Regions from separate parts of the Homo sapiens genome. Here region 2 is linked to region 1. The links come from fine-mapping of genetic effects on gene expression. Tissue or cell type: whole blood. Region 1 holds a variant in brackets; the other region holds the start of a gene. All regions are shown on one strand. Distances are from middle to middle.

The links. PIP is the estimated chance that this variant, and not a neighbour inherited with it, causes the effect.
Region 2: it holds the start of SPEN-AS1, and the variant in region 1 is fine-mapped to the expression of SPEN-AS1 in whole blood (TOPMed, PIP above 0.99).

Annotation. Positions count from the first base shown.
Region 1 is chr1:15,920,745-15,928,559 of GRCh38, forward strand. It overlaps SPEN (spen family transcriptional repressor), which reads left to right. Exons shown (of 15, transcript NM_015001.3): 9 at 126-239; 10 at 1,505-1,605; 11 at 7,347-7,815. Among named protein-coding and RNA genes, the nearest start is that of ZBTB17, 51 kb to the right of the region's middle. The variant T/C (reference allele first, on the strand shown) is at 4,136.
Region 2 is chr1:15,844,886-15,852,700 of GRCh38, forward strand. It overlaps SPEN-AS1 (SPEN antisense RNA 1), which reads right to left and starts at 3,262. Exons shown (of 2, transcript NR_024279.1): 1 at 3,223-3,262. It overlaps SPEN (spen family transcriptional repressor), which reads left to right and starts at 2,822. Exons shown (of 15, transcript NM_015001.3): 1 at 2,822-3,265. The coding sequence starts at 3,183. RefSeq lists enhancers at 1-72, 1,952-2,464, 2,465-2,976, 4,400-4,994, 7,374-7,443 and silencers at 2,559-3,128, 3,309-3,728.

The DNA.
Region 1 (7,815 bases):
TAGAATAAAATATATAAAAATATATTTTTTCTCATCCGTGTCCTTGTGGCTTAGGATTTTGTTGGGACTGACACTAAGTCCAGTGGATGAGGCTCTTACTTGTTTTTTGTTTGTTTGTTTTACAGGTGGTGTTTGACCGCTTAAAAGGCATGGCCCTGGTTCTCTACAATGAAATTGAATATGCACAAGCAGCTGTAAAAGAGACCAAAGGGAGGAAAATCGGTGGGAATAAAATTAAGGTGTGCAGAATGACTTTAAACAGAAGCAAAACAAAGTCCTATTCAAATCTCACCCTCTTGGGCTGGGCGTGGTGGCTCACGCCTGTAATCCCAGCACTTTGGGAGGCCAAGGCAGGTGGATCACCTGAGGTCAGGAGTTCGAGACCAGCCTGATGAACATGGTGAAACCACGTCTCTACTAAAAATACAAGAAAAATTAGCCGGGCTTGGTGGCGCGTGCCTGTTAATCCCAGCTACTTGGGAGGCTGAGGCAGGAGAATTGCTTGAACCCAGGAGGCGGAGGTTGCAGTGTGCTGAGATCATGCCGTTGCACTCCAGCCTGGGTGACAGAGTAAGACTCCATCTCCAAAAAAAAGAAATCACCCCGTTAATAACTAGCATTTTGTAGGCTGCCAGCCAGGGGAGTGGTTTACAAGACACGTATGCTGTATCATTAGTGTTTAAGGGGAATATTACAATTTTATGCTCAGCTACTTGTGGGCACAGCATCTTTAAACCATTAGCCACAGATCCTTCCCTAAAAATCTTCTCATTCAAAGAAGTGTGCTTCTCAGTGTTCGGGTGCTGATGCTCACACAGACACTCTCATCGCAGGCTTGACCACAGTTATGGGTATCTGACACCCAGGGCCTCATAGTATCAGTCCAGCATCCTGAATGATATGTCTTTCTTTCCTTTCCTACTCTCCTGAAGAGTGGGTAGCCACTTAAAGCATAACTTTATGTCCAGTGTATGTTTTTAAAAACTTGTATTCATGGTAGTTTGAAGGAATTTATGCACTTAACTATGAAATAACTATGATTGTTAGGTTGAAAAAAGTATTTTAAAAATAAGATGATAAGCTATTTGATAGCTGATGAGCATCATATGCTTTAGTAACTTTGAGGCCCAGCTGTGAATAAAGTTTAAAATGTTCATCCATATTTTGTTTTATATTCTAACTGTAGTTTTGGCAACAGAGATTGCTGGATTTAGTTGATCTGATTACTTAATTGCCATTTCAGTTTTCCATTTTGCTTTTTTCACTCCTTCACAATTGGGTTTGAAACTTTATAAATTTCATTCTTTTATCACGGTTTATACAGAATTTGAGAGATTTCAGGTTAATATAGTTTCAGTGATGAGGACTGTTTTACTTGAGATACATTGCTGTTTCCTGAAATTTTCTCAGAAGGGCTATGTTGTGAAGAATTTACAAATCTGATAACATTTTTCCATCATTAAAATTTGAAACTTGCATCAAACACCTCTTTTTTTTTTTAAAGGTGGATTTTGCAAATCGGGAAAGTCAGCTGGCTTTTTATCACTGCATGGAGAAATCTGGTCAAGACATCAGAGACTTTTATGAAATGTTAGCCGAAAGAAGGTATGTATTTTAAACTTACCAGTGTAGCTTGAGTTTTAATAGTTTTAATACAGAAACTTAAGATGGCATTAAATTTTATTTTTCACTCTTTACCCCTACTTTCATCTTCTAGAATAGAGAATGCTTCTCTTTTATCACTTCATATGGAAACACAGGTTTATTTTTTTGAATCTAGTTTCCAGGTAATTCCTATGGGTTTGGAGCAACCTGTCTGGATTTCTCACTGAATGCTCCTAGAACTTGAAAGAGTTACTGTTTTGCCAGGTGATAACTTTATGTACTTTTTTTTTTGAGACAGGGTCTCACTCTGTCACCCAGACTGGAGTGCAGTGGCATGATCATGGCTCACTGCAGTCTCTGCCTTATAGGCTCAAGTGATCCTCACACATCATCTTCTTGATTAGCTGGGACTACAGACACTTGCCACCACGCTGGAGTAATTTTTGTAAAGATGGGTTTTCTCCATGTTGTCTAGGCTGGTCTTGAACTCCTGGGCTCAAGCATTCTGCCCGCTTTGGCCTCCCAAAGCGCTGGGATTACAGGTGTGAGCCACCACACCTGGTCTGCTTTATGTACCATTAATCATAAATACAAATCATCTTGCTTACAGTTACTTCTTAAAGTAAATGTATTAATATATGTTAGAGTGCATTATAAACTTTTAAATGGCTACATATTTAGTAATGACAACAACCAGGTTGTATGTGCTCATACATTTAACTTAAAAAATAAATAAATAAATAAAAACTTCCAAAAGAATATCAAGAGCTTTATTTTAAAGTTGAATCTCTTAAATAGTCAAAGTGAATCAATAAGCCAAAGCATATGTAAACTGGCAACTTTGGCAATGTGCAGGGCAAACCTGATTTCCTCTTGTTAATACTTTCAGTCATGGTTATGTAGTATTTAATATTTTTTCTGCTGAACAGACCGAAATATAGTAAAACATCTTAAGATAATGCCACCAGATTCTTCAATAGCTGATTACTTTTGAAAATGGAAATTTGGTCCATATTATCAAGCTGTTTTTCCAGACATACCTCTGATTAAGTTTCCTGGAATGTTCCCACTAGGTCTCCACCCCTATATGTGTTAGACAAAAGGTTTGTGTGAAAAACGCCTTTAGACACTTGAGTTCAAAGTATGAAAAGGGCTCCATGGCAAGATGAGCCAAGTCAGGGTTGTGCTGCCACAAGCCCTGTTGAATGCATTCCCTTTCTACTGCCTCTTCTTGCCAATTCATTTTTGTTTAAATGATAGCAAGTATTAATATATATTAATTTCTTAGTGGAATATTGTACAACAGTCGTTGAATACTTTGTGCTTTTTTTTTTTTTTGAGATGAAGTCTTGCTCTGTGGTCTAGGCTAGAGTGCAGTGATGCGATATTGGCTTACTGCAACCTCTGCCTTGCTGGTTCAAGCGATTCTCCTGCCTCAGCCTCCCGAGTAGCTGGGACTACAGGCGCATGCCACCATGCCCGGCTAATTTTTGTATTTTTAGTAGAGACGGGGTTTCACCATATTGGTCAGGCTGGTCTTGAACTCCTGACCTCGTGATCCGCCCGCCTTGGCCTCTCAAAGTGCTGGGATTACAGGCGTGAGCCACCGCACCCGGCCTACCTGGTGTTTTTAAATGAAAAATGCTCCCTACGGCCAAATTCTCAAAAGCTCAAACTTGTCAGGTTTTGATGGTTTCTCACCAGATCAGAATCCAAATCACAAAGCTTCAAAGATCAATACTCCTTTAGCTAGAAAGTCAGGCTCGATAGACTGTTTTCTCAGTTGTGTGAGTGTAAGAGAGTGAAAGTGAGCGTAAAATTATGTGGCCACATGCAGGAGAATGTGTGTGTCTCATGTCAAGAGAGAAAAAAATTCTCTATCCTGGCTTCCCAAGTAGCAGTTTGAAGTCATTGTTAATACAGTAAATGCTTACAAGGAATTCTTATCTATATGTGAGTGGAAAGTGTCCCGGAGGCCTACTTGCACCTAAAACATACAAAATCCATTAAAATCCTCTGTGTACATTAAATATTTTAAAACAGCAGTTTTGTGTGAGGGTTGAATAATGTAATGTGGGTGTTACTTTTTGTATATTACTACTTAAAATCTATTTTTTTTTTGTTTTTTGAGACAGAGTTTCCCTTTCGTTGCCCAGGCTGGAGTGCAATGGTGCAATCTTGGCTTACCGCAACCTCTGCCTCCTGGGTTCAAGCGATTCTCCTGCCTCGGGCTCCAGAGTAGCTGGAATTACAGGCACGCACCACCAGGCCTGGCTAATTTTGCATTTTTAGTGGAGACAGGGTTTCTCCATGTTGGTCAGGCTGGTCTCAAATTCCTGACCTCAGGTGATCCGCCTGCCTCGGCCTCCCAAAGTGCTGGGATTACAGATGTGAGCCACCACGCTTGGCCAAAAGTCATTGTTTGTTTTAGTGATGAACTAACTGGCTTTGGGTTTGTTCTGTGTTTTTTCTCATGGTTATTTATCCCTCTCAAATGGCAGTTATCTCCTCATGAGGACGCAGGAGGGTG[T/C]GGGACTTCACTGTGACCCAGGTTTGCCCCATGTGGTTTCAGTTGGCAGTGCTTATGGAATGCATTCCTTGCAGTAGACCTTGAGGATCTTTGCCTCTTCCATAGAATGGAAGTTATCTCACTGAATAGTTGATGCATGAATGAAAAAAAATGCTTTAATGCTAATGATAAGCTCAGGAATGCAAATGACAACTCTATTTGCACAGGGCTTTCCCATTTTCCAATAGTATTTCATTTGATCCCTCTAATACTCTGTCAGGTAACCCTTTTTATGGAAGGAACTTTTGCTAATAAGATCACAGGCCACTAAGGGGCTGGGCTGGGGATAAACCTAGGGTTCCTACCTGCTAGTGCATTGAGCTTACCCTTTACCGGAGTGGTTCTCGAGATGAATTTACAGGGTCACATTGTGATTCAGATGACATCTACTTATGGCACTTTGGATACTCTGTGGTTTTGTGAACAGAGTTCTCTCCGAACCTGACTTTCTGCAGTTCCTCAGAGTCCCCGTACATGGTCCAAGTGCCAGTTGTGTTGTCCCTGCTTAAATTGTTGAATTCTTTGAGGGCAGAACTGCTTATTTCTTTTGTTGTCATGGGGCCCAGCAAAATAAGTATTTGTTAAGCTGAACAGTGCTCCAGCATGAATGCTTATACATATATTTCTGCCTTCCAAAACTTTTTTTAATATTACTACTTAATAAATTTTTATTAAATTTTTTTTTTTTTTTGTAGAGATGGGGTCTTGCTGTGTTGATCCTGCCAGTCTTGAACTCCTGGCCTCAAGCAGGCCTCCCAAAGTGCTAGGATTACAAGCCTAAGCTACCATGCCCAGCTCGTATTTTTAGATATAGTTTTAGTTTGCTTAATTAAAAAGATACCTTGATACTGTGTTTTTAAATATGACTCAAGCCTACCATTAATATGGGCAGTAAACTAATGACCATTCTAGGTGTCTTACTCACTTTATAATATTAGAAGGTATATAATGTGTTCACCTTCATGTGGAAAATACATCCTCAAAGTATGTATTTATGGTGGTAATGAGTTAAATTAGCCTAATTCCATGCCTAGTAACAGTTATTTATGAGCTGCCTCGTCACTATTTAGACAAGGAATCTGATTTCCATGGAGCTATGGAAGGATCATCTTGAATCCAATTAAACCAAATATCATAGATACACAATAAAATATTTTCTTTGAACTGAGGAAGTTCAATATAAGTACATATAATAGGCCAGGCACAGTGGCTCATGCCTGTAATCCCAGAACTTTGAGAGACTGAGGCGGGCAGATCACCAGAGGTCAGGAGTTTGAGTTCGGCCTGGCCAACACAGTGAAACCTGTCTCTACTAAAAATACAAAAAAATTGGCCAAGCGTGGTGGCGCATGCCTGTATTCCCAGCTACTTGTGGTGGTGGTGAGGTAGGAGAATCGCTTGAACCCCAGAGGTGGAGAGCAGTGAGCCGAGATTGTGCCACTGCACTCCAGCTCAGATATATACATACACACACACACACACACACACACACACATTTATAAATATATTTACAAAATATACATATTTATAAATATGTATATTTATAAAATAATGTGTTATCGATGCTTCCAGTGTTGGAATGTTCAGTCTAGATGCTTCGTTTGCTGTTCAAAGGAGTTGGAACATCATTTAGTAGCAGCTTTGATATATTTTTCTAAAGTTCATTCTTTCAACAAATAGTTGAGTGCTATGAGCCAAGTGCTGTTGTAAGAGCTAGAGAAATTTTGGCCAAGAAGACAAAGCCTGTGCCTTTATGGGGCTTAAGTTCTAGTGTTCTTTTTTTTTTTTTTTTGAGATGGAGTCTCGCTGTGTCGCCCAAGCTGGAGTGCAGCGGCACAATCTTGACTCACTGCAAGCTCCGCCTCCCAGGTTCATGCCATTCTCCTTCCTCAGCCTCCCGAGTACCTGGGACTACAGGCGCCTGCCACCATGCCCGCCTAATTTTTTCTATTTTTAGTAGAGATGGGGTTTCACCATGTTAGCCAGGATGGTCTTGATCTCCTAACCTCGTGATCCGCCTGCCTTGGCCTCCCAAAGTGCTGGGATTACAGGCATGAGCCACCGTGTCCGGCCAAGTTCTAGTGTTCTTTCAGCGAGCTACTAATGGCAGTGTTACCTAGAATGAGCCAGGTGTATCTACATGAGAGAACAAACATTGCGGAGAATGAATGAGTGAAGGAAGTAATTGGTCTCTGTTACAGGTGTATTTAATTTCATATAATATATGTTCTTGTGTGTAAATTTAATCCTATTTTGAATGCACCAGACAGGTCCCTGTGGGAGAAAACCTGTGGTGAGTTCCTTAAAACTGGAGGAGTTCTCTCATGGTGCTTGCAGTCATCCCTGGTTTGTTAGTTGGCAGCCTGGGGGAAAGTGACAACATTTACTGAGGCCAAGTACCTGCCTAGGATTATGTAGGAAAGTTTTTACAGATATTATCTTAATCTTTTTAACAGCTTTATGAGGAAAAGCTGCCATTTTATGAGTGAGGAGACTGAGTTCAGAGAGTTTAACCAGGTTCCAGTATTTTTTAAAAATTGTGAATTAGATAGAAGTGTTACCAGTATCATACAGGTCATATAGATGGCAAAATTTTAGTTAAAATTTTTATCTGTTTTTCTAAACAGTGGATTTATTTCCCAAGTTGTAAGAATATCTTTTTATAGAATAGTAATTTTGTGGGAGACTTAGGTAGGAGTGTGGGGATATTGTCCAGTAACTAGTGTCTGCTTTGTCACAACGCCGGAGTTACCAGAAACATTAAAAAAGGGTTGAATCACCACTGCCCAATAGAAGCATAATGTAAGTTATATAAATTCTGTATATGTAATTTTAAATTTTCTAGTAGCCACATTAAAAAGACAAAGTGAAATTTTCTTTAATATATCTAAAACGTTGTTTCAACATATAATCAGTCTAAATTGTTGTTTTTCTATAAACTAGGTCTACAAAATTGGCTGTGTATTTTACACATCTCAATTTAGCTAGATTTCAAGTGCCTAGTAGCTACTTGAAGCTATAGTGGATAGCTACTACAAACTAATCATTTCACAAATGATTAAATAATGTCAAAAGATTTTTTAGAAGCAGGAATTTCTGATTTCATATGTATGATTTTATGCATAAGTGATGAGGAAACAAAAGAACTAATATCTTTGTTATTTTTTGGCAGAGAGGAACGAAGGGCATCCTACGACTATAACCAAGATCGTACATATTATGAGAGTGTTCGAACTCCAGGCACTTATCCTGAGGATTCCAGGCGGGACTATCCAGCTCGAGGGAGAGAGTTTTATTCAGAATGGGAAACTTACCAAGGAGACTACTATGAATCACGATACTACGATGATCCTCGGGAATACAGGGATTACAGGAATGATCCTTATGAACAAGATATTAGGGAATATAGTTACAGGCAAAGGGAACGAGAAAGAGAACGTGAAAGATTTGAGTCTGACCGGGACAGAGACCATGAGAGGAGGCCGATTGAACGAAGTCAAAGTCCTGTTCACTTGCGACGTCCACAGAGTCCTGGAGCGTCTCCCTCTCAGGCAGAGAGGTTGCCGAGTGATTCTGAGAGGAGGCTTTACAGCCGATCCTCAGACCGGAGTGGAAGCTGTAGCTCACTCTCCCCTCCAAGA
Region 2 (7,815 bases), 76 kb before region 1:
TTTAACAGAAGCCTCCATTCAAGGCGAGACATGCCTTTTATTTCTCTAATTGCGAGACACTTTTCTGAATCCTCTTGTCAGTTGCACCTTTTAATACAATTGAGGTGACACTGTTCTTCATGGTGACACTGGTCTTTCCCAAGAGGTTTCAGCTAATTCAGTCTATCAGATTTTACATCAGATTTTAAAATTTGCTTCAAACTTGGGTGCTTGTATTCAAATTCATGCTTCATAGAAAAATGCATATCAGTTCAACAGTTGACTAACTGCAGCCACGTTCACAGTACTGAATAGTTCATGAGTTTCGTTAGTAGGGTGTTAGCTTGACTTTCCTTATGTGATAATTGTGACAGAGAAATGGCCAGATGTAAATAGCCAATTTTACTTTTTTTTTTCTTTTTTTAAGAGAGGGGTTTCTCCTATGTTGCTGAGGCTGGAGTGCTGGGGCTTTTCAAGGCACAATCATAGTGCACTACAGCTTGGAACTCCTGGACTCAGATGATGCTTCTGCCTTAGCCTCTCCAGTAGCTGAGACTACAAAGAAACAATTTAGTTATGCATAGGTGACCTGAGATATTAGTGCCATTGGTTTTGGTGACAATATTTTCGAATTCAAATAGTGTCGTTTGTAAGTTAGTTTGTATTTAAGGAGATAATCGATGAGGCCAAGTATTTAAAATTGGCTGGGCTGGTGGTTCATGCCTGTAATACCAGCACTTTGGAAGGCTGAGGTGGGCAGATCACCAGGTCAAGAGATCGAAACCATCCTGGATAGCATGGTGAAACCCCGCCTCTACTAAACGTAAAAAAATTACCTGGGCGTGGTGGTTTGCGCCTGTAGTCCCAGCTACTTGGGAGGCTGAGGCAGGAGAATTGCTTGAACCCGGGAGACGGAGGATGCAGTAAGCAGAGATGGTACCACTTCACTCCAGCCTGGTGACAGAGTGAGACTGCGTCTCCAAAAAAAAAAAAAAAAAAAAAAAAAAAATCTGGCTTGCACCTGAAGCAGCACACCTCTGGTATTTCTGTGTATTTTTATTATAAATAATTTTATTTTTCTCTCGATATAGTTACCTTAATTTTATGGGTTTTCCTTGAATTTCTGTAAATTGGCCTTTATATAAAAGTTCAACTGGCCGGGCATGGTGGCTCACGCCTGTAATCCCAGCACTTTGGGAGGCCAAGGTGGGCAGATCACCTGAGGTCAGGAGTTCAAGACCAGCCTGGCCAACATGGTGAAACCCCGTCTTTACTAAGAATACAAAAAACTAGCCTGGTGTGGTGGTGCGCGCCTGTAATTCCAGCTACTCGGAAGGCTGACGCAGGAGAATCGCTTGAACCTGGGAGGCGGAGGTTGCAGTGAGCTGAGACAGCGCCATTGTGCCCCAGCTTGGCTAACAAGAGTGAAACTTGGTCTCAGGAAAAAAAAAAAAAAAGAGGCTGGGCGTGGTGGCTCAAGCCTGTAATCCCAGCACTTTGGGAGGCTTGAGGCGGGTGGATTACCTGAGGTTGTGAGTTCGAGGCCAGCTTGACCAACACAGAGAAACTGTCTCTACTAAAAATACAAAAATTAGCCGGGCATGGTGGCGCATGCCTGTAATCCCAGCTACTCAGGAGGCTGAAGCAGGAGAATCGCTTGAACCCAGGAGACAGAGGTTGCAGTAAGCCGAGAACACACCATTGCACTCCAGCCTGGGCAACAAAAGCAAAACTCCGTCTCAAAGGAAAAAAAAAAAAAAAGAAAGTTCAACTGTAGGTTTCAAAAGCTCTTAGGCCTGGAAAGGCCAGAGGTCTAATTCCTTTCTCTGTTTAAATATTAAATTATGGTCTGAGGGGAACAATATTGGATTCCTGTCTCATTTCCGTTTTATTCCTTCTATACCACAGCGATCAGCAAGGGTATCTTGCAAACGGTTTCGCAAGATTCTATATAAAAAAGTTGCTTAGGCCAGGTGCAGTGACTCCCGCCTGTACTCCCAGTACTTTAGGAGGCCGAGGCGGGCGGATCACCTGAGGTCAGGAGTTCAAGACCAGCCTGGCCTACATGGTGAAACCCTGTCTCTAATAAAAATACAAAAATTAGCCAGGTGTGGTTGCGGGTGCTTGTAATCCCAGCTACTTGGGAGGCTGAGGCAGGAGAATCGCTTGAGTCTGGGAGGCGGAGATTGCAGTGAGCCGAGACCGTGCCACTGCACTCCAGCAGCCTGGGCAACAGAGCGAGACCCCGTATTAAAAAAAAAAAAGTTGCTTCATGTTACAAGCCAGTGACTCTTGGATGGGATGCGTTTCTGAAGCCGTCGCTGTTCAGCAGAGCGGTGAGAAGGGCAACCTTTTTCTGATCGCTTTCCCAAGCAGGCAGGAATCTAAGTGTCCGGAAACGCCAGGAGCTGGCCGCCAGGTGAGCGGAGGACGAAGGGGTCCTGACTTCTAGGGGACAGGCCTTGGCAGCCGCTTTGACCCGTAGCCCTGTGGAAACCAATTGCATTTCTCTTCATATCTTCCACCAGGCCGGGGCCTGGGGTTGCCGCTGGAGGGGCTAAAGACCGCTCCTGCTTCCTCAGCCGCCCCTTGCCCGGCGCGGGAACCCGACCGAGAGCCCGCCAAGCAGCGGGACTCCACTAGCAGCTGCGCGCCTGCGCACCGGGGCCGAGCGCGCGAGCGTTCCTTCCCCGCCTGTAGTCCCTCACTTCGTCGCCCGGTCCGCGCGCCTGCGCGCCGGCTGGGAGGAACTCAGCTTCTCCGCCTTGGCAGGCGGGAGGACGCGCGCGCGCCCGCGGCGAGGGGGAGGCAGTGCGGCGGCGGGAGTCGGGCCGCGCGCGCCAGTGGGAAGCGTCCGGCTGCCACAGCGCCAGCTCCGTCGTAGTCGCTGCCGCCCGTGTCCCGCTCGCCCCTCCTCCCGCTCCCCCGCCCGCCCCTGCCCGGGCGCATGCGCTGCCGGAGCGCGAGGGTCGGCTTCGGGTGTGTGGTGGCGGCAGAGCTGAGCTGCGAGGCCCGAGAGTCAGAACCTGGGGGAGAGGGATGGTCTCTGCACGGGGGGGAGCCGGAGGAGCCGCCGCCGCTGCCGACGCCACCGCCGCAGCCGCCGCCGCCGCCGCCCCGGCACCCGCCTCCCGGCGCTGACGGTCTCGTACGAAGCCGGCGAGGGGGAGCCAGCAGCGGCGGTCGCCGGCACGCCGCCCAGCATGGTCCGGGAAACCAGGCATCTCTGGGTGGGCAACTTACCCGAGAACGTGCGGGAAGAGAAGATCATCGAGCATTTCAAACGGTGAGTGACACGAGGCCCGCGGCCGCGCTCGCTCCTCGGGCGCCGCTTCCCGCCCCGGCCCGTTGCCGGCCCCTCCCGGAGCGCGGAGCTGGTGAGGAGGACTCCGGCCCGGACCCACGGGCGCTGTGGGACCTCGTCAGCCGCTCGGCCCGCGTCGCGGCGTTGGGCCTCGGGTGTCGGCGGTGCGGGCGGCCAAGCCGCGCCGCCTTCGAAGAGCCCGCGGGGCCCCGGCGGCCGCGTCCGTGACGAGGGAGGTGACCGAGGCTCGGCCTCCACGCAGCCGGCGCCCCGGGGCTGCCCTCGCGTCAGCCCGGGAGTCGGTGGGAGATGCGCTGGGCGGCGGGGTCGCGTCCTTGCGCGCAGTGCCCGGCCCGGAGCAGCCGGGACCCGAGCCCGCCCGACAGCCGGGTCCGGCGCCGCCACTCCAAGCTGCTCTGCGGGCGCTCGGCAATGTCTGACTTCGGGAGGGTTCCGTGCGAAGGGAAAGGCGGTGCGAAAACAGAAGTCGCAGTAGGTACTGTGGTCGCGTCGCGGACCCGGAGAGACCATCTAGGACCTCTCCGGAGGATTTGCAGCCTTGAAACTCACTGGGAATGGCAAACGTTTCTCGTTTTTGCGGGGCTGGGTGGAGAGTGGTGTGAAATAAGTTGGTGCGCCCGTTTGGGCTTCCTCGTCCCCGGCGGAGGAGACCGCGTCTGACAGGAGGTTGCTAGCCCCGGCGCCCGTAGCCTCGGGTCGCACTCCCAGGCCGCCCTAAGACCCTGGTGCCCCCCACCCCTGAATTCCCGAATCAAACGGTAAAACATTCCAAACCTTTTACGATGAGAAGATGTAGCTTAAAAAAAAAACCTCCCCTGAATATTTTTGTGAATTATAAGAATAAATGTTGTCGTTGATACATCTTATTGAGTAGCGTGTAGTGCGTTTTCTTTGTGAAATGCCTGTGTACCGTAACAGATAGGCCTCCGCATAAAACACTTATTAAAATGACGATTGGCTTGGACTTGGTGCAGATTCAGAGGGACCATAGCAAATCTGTGGTTGTCCTCGAAAATGACAGTTTATTCCGATATTTAAGACCCTGGAAGGTTTTAAGTTTGGCTTTTAATTTCCCTTACTATGTAGTGAGTGAAGGAAATTATGGAGCGTCCTCATTAATGAGTCACCATGGGAAAAATAGATTGCGTCGCTCGCTTTGAGCCGCTTGGATAAGGAAATGGAAGCAGCGGCGGCGGAGCTCCTGTCTTTTAAATGGAGGATCATTGATTGTGTTGGTGGTTGCTGTTACTGGGGCATTAAACCCTCGCCGCTGGAGCGCGCGTCTGCGCGTGTCCGCGTGTGAAAAGGAGCCGGGAATCGTGGGGCCATTCATAACCTGCTTGAGCTGTCCTCGGCAGGCCGGGGGGAGGTGCGCGCTTCCAGGGACTCTCCCGGTGTTTACTACGTCGTGCCTGAGAAACCAGGCGGGGGCGGGGGGAGGCAGGGAGCAAAAATTCACCTCTGTGCCCTAGGATGAAGGGGAGACCACGGGCTGGATTGGGAAGCAGATGGGAACTTTCTCTTCCTGGCGCTGCTCCACCCCTTACCCGCCCCCCACCTCCTGGCTTCTCCTCGAGTATCGTCAGTGTTTTGATGGAAAAATCATTTAGGTGTACATTATTGGAGTGGAAAAACCACTTAGATGTGCTCACTTTAATCCCCTGTGGACTTTCTCTGTAGGTCTCTGCCTGGGAAATTCGTATGCACCGATGTACAAGCACGTGCATTGCAGCATTCGCTCGCTCCTCAGTGTTATGTGCCTAGACGTGTCATTTCTCATTATGCAGATTCCAGAGACATTGCATGCTTATGGCTGGGAGTTTGGCCCCTCTGCAAGATGAGGGGGCAGAGAGAAGAAAGAGGAAATCGTCCCAGGCAGCTTTGGAAGGGTTCTTAGTGGACGGTGCTGCGGTCTGGCTTGTGTGAATGACTTTCTAAAATGGCGGCCAGGACCCACTTTATGTGGGAATCAGCAGAGCCGATCTCAGAATGCACAGAGGGAGGAGGGGGCGGAGGATTCGAGCTGCCTTGGAAAGCGGCAGTCTGGAGGAACATTACTGTATTAAAAACGGCTTAGCTGGCAGTTTGCTCACGACTGCATTCAAAGGAGTATCTTACCTATTGCAGAGTAAAAGCAGATGCTACTGATAAAAGCAGGTTATTTTAAAACTAAGCAGATCATGTGTCCCTGAAATTCTTTTATTTTAAAGGTTTTTTTTTTTCATTTTTAAACAAATCTATTTAGTTGTTTAAATAGACAGTACATTTTTATGGGTTCAAAGCATGTGAAAGGTATACAGAGAAAAATCTCCACCCCTGACCCTGGAATTCCCAGTTGCCACACTTCCTCCCCTCACCCCCCAAAATCCAGGTAATGTCTATTTCTGGTTTCTTGTTTATCTTTCTGCATGTACAAGAAATGTTCCTGCTGATCCAGCTGTGGAGCTAAGTGGACCTTGTTTGGAGGAACTCAAGGCCTTTTATCCCTATTGTGGGATATATTTTGTAAAATGTGTGATTGCTACTAGGAGTAAAAGTGAAATCTGAATAATTTAAGTGAAAGGAATAAAAAGGTAGTTGTACCAGAACGATGGCTCTGCAAGAAAATGAAATGGTATTCACTTCTGGTGTCTTGTACAAATCAGAATGAGAAAAACCATGCAATACCTATATTAAAACTGAACTTTAAGTGCCTACTCTTATCCTTTTCCCTAGCTGATTACATTAATAACTGTTTTACAGGATTAAGAGGTGTACACTGGGAATACATTATATAAAACGTTTTCAAGATGAATGTTCTCTTAACAGTGATTAGGCTTTTGTAGTAAGTGTTTGCATTTTACAAAAAGATTAAACCAGACAGCTTTGGGGACAGCTTAGAGACATTTTAACAGAAAAAAGAGGTCAGTCAGTTCTTTAAAAATTTTTATATTTATTTTTAAATTTACATTCTGATTAGTTTTGTTTGTTTGTTTGTTTTTAAATGGACAGTAGATTGAGGGGTGGATGGCGATTTGGCTTTTTCCTCCCCAGTGCCAAAGAAAGACCAAATCCTTAAAACATAATCAGAACATTTACAAAAATTGGCTTTTCTTTTCTTGCAATAATAATAAATCTGTTGTTATTTTTACAGTTTTCAGTTTGCGGATTTAAAAAAATTAAATGAGAACTATTTCTGAATCGGGTTTTAGTTAACAAAGATTCATTACAGGGACACAATAGAGAAAGTCCTTTCCTTTGTATGTTAGCTGGGTTGAAGGGGGAAGGGAGGAGTTATACAATTGGTTCCTGTCTTTTAGTTATGAGAGGGAGAGAGGTGTCTGCAAAGGCGACTCCTTGAATTAGAATGAGCAAATGAATAAAACCCTTAAAATATTTAACATCTTTATCTTTTCAGATTTTAAGTAAGTTGCGAATTTAGTTCTTCCCATCCATCTCCAGTTTTAGAGACTAGGTTAAAGATTATGCGGAGGTAAACTGAGGTAGCCCCTCGTGTAAAAATATTGTTAAAGAGGCTGGGTGCGGTGGCTCACGCTTATAATCCCAGCACTTTGGGAGGCCGAGGCGGGCGGGTCACGAAGTCAAGAGTTCAAGACCAGCTTGGTGAACATGGTAAAACCCCGTCTCTACTAAAATACAAAAAATTAGCCAGGTGTGGTGGTGTGCATCTGTAGATCCAGCTACTTGGGAGGCTGAGGCAGGGGAATTGCTTGAACCTGGGAGGCGGAGGTTTCAGTGAGCTGAGATCGTGCCACTGCACTCTAGCCTGGGGGACAGAGCAAGACTCCGTCTGGGGAAAAAAAAAGAATGAGACCCATTTAAAAATGTAATTTGTTTTTGCTGATTTAAAATGTTTGATCACAGTGGTTTTCCTGAGTTAAATAGATGGAATAGCTATTACATTTTATGTATATTCAGATATCTTTACCTCTGGGACACAATATAAAATATTGAATTTCCTTTTCCTGACTACTAGGGATATTTTTAGACTTAAACAAATTTGACTCACTGTAGCCTGTATCATTGTTACGTCGCTTCTTCATTTGAGACCAGAAGGTTTCTATGAAACCACTTCTTGTCTATGGCCATACCACCCATACCACCCCCATCCCGTCTATGAAACCACCTCTGGTTTTGAATATTCTGATTTCCAATATCTATTTGCATGATAGGCTTTTGCACATTTTAAAAATAAAACAAAAAATTCAGAGTTATCTTAAAACATTAAAAATTACACAGAATAATTATAAAGCAATACAGAATAATACAGAAAAATTATACAGAATAATTATACAAAATAATAAAAAATAATAAAATGGGTTTTATTTCCCAAAAGGAACGCCCCTGGCAGATTGGAGGAAAATATAGGGCTCACTGCCAGGAAGAATGATAGTGTTTCGCTTGTGTGGAGGGCACCTTTTTCTAACTACCTTTGTTGCAGACTCGTGATTGCTGGGATTGTATTGTGTGGTATACTTATGAAGAGGTTTCAGGCTTGATTTATGGGACAT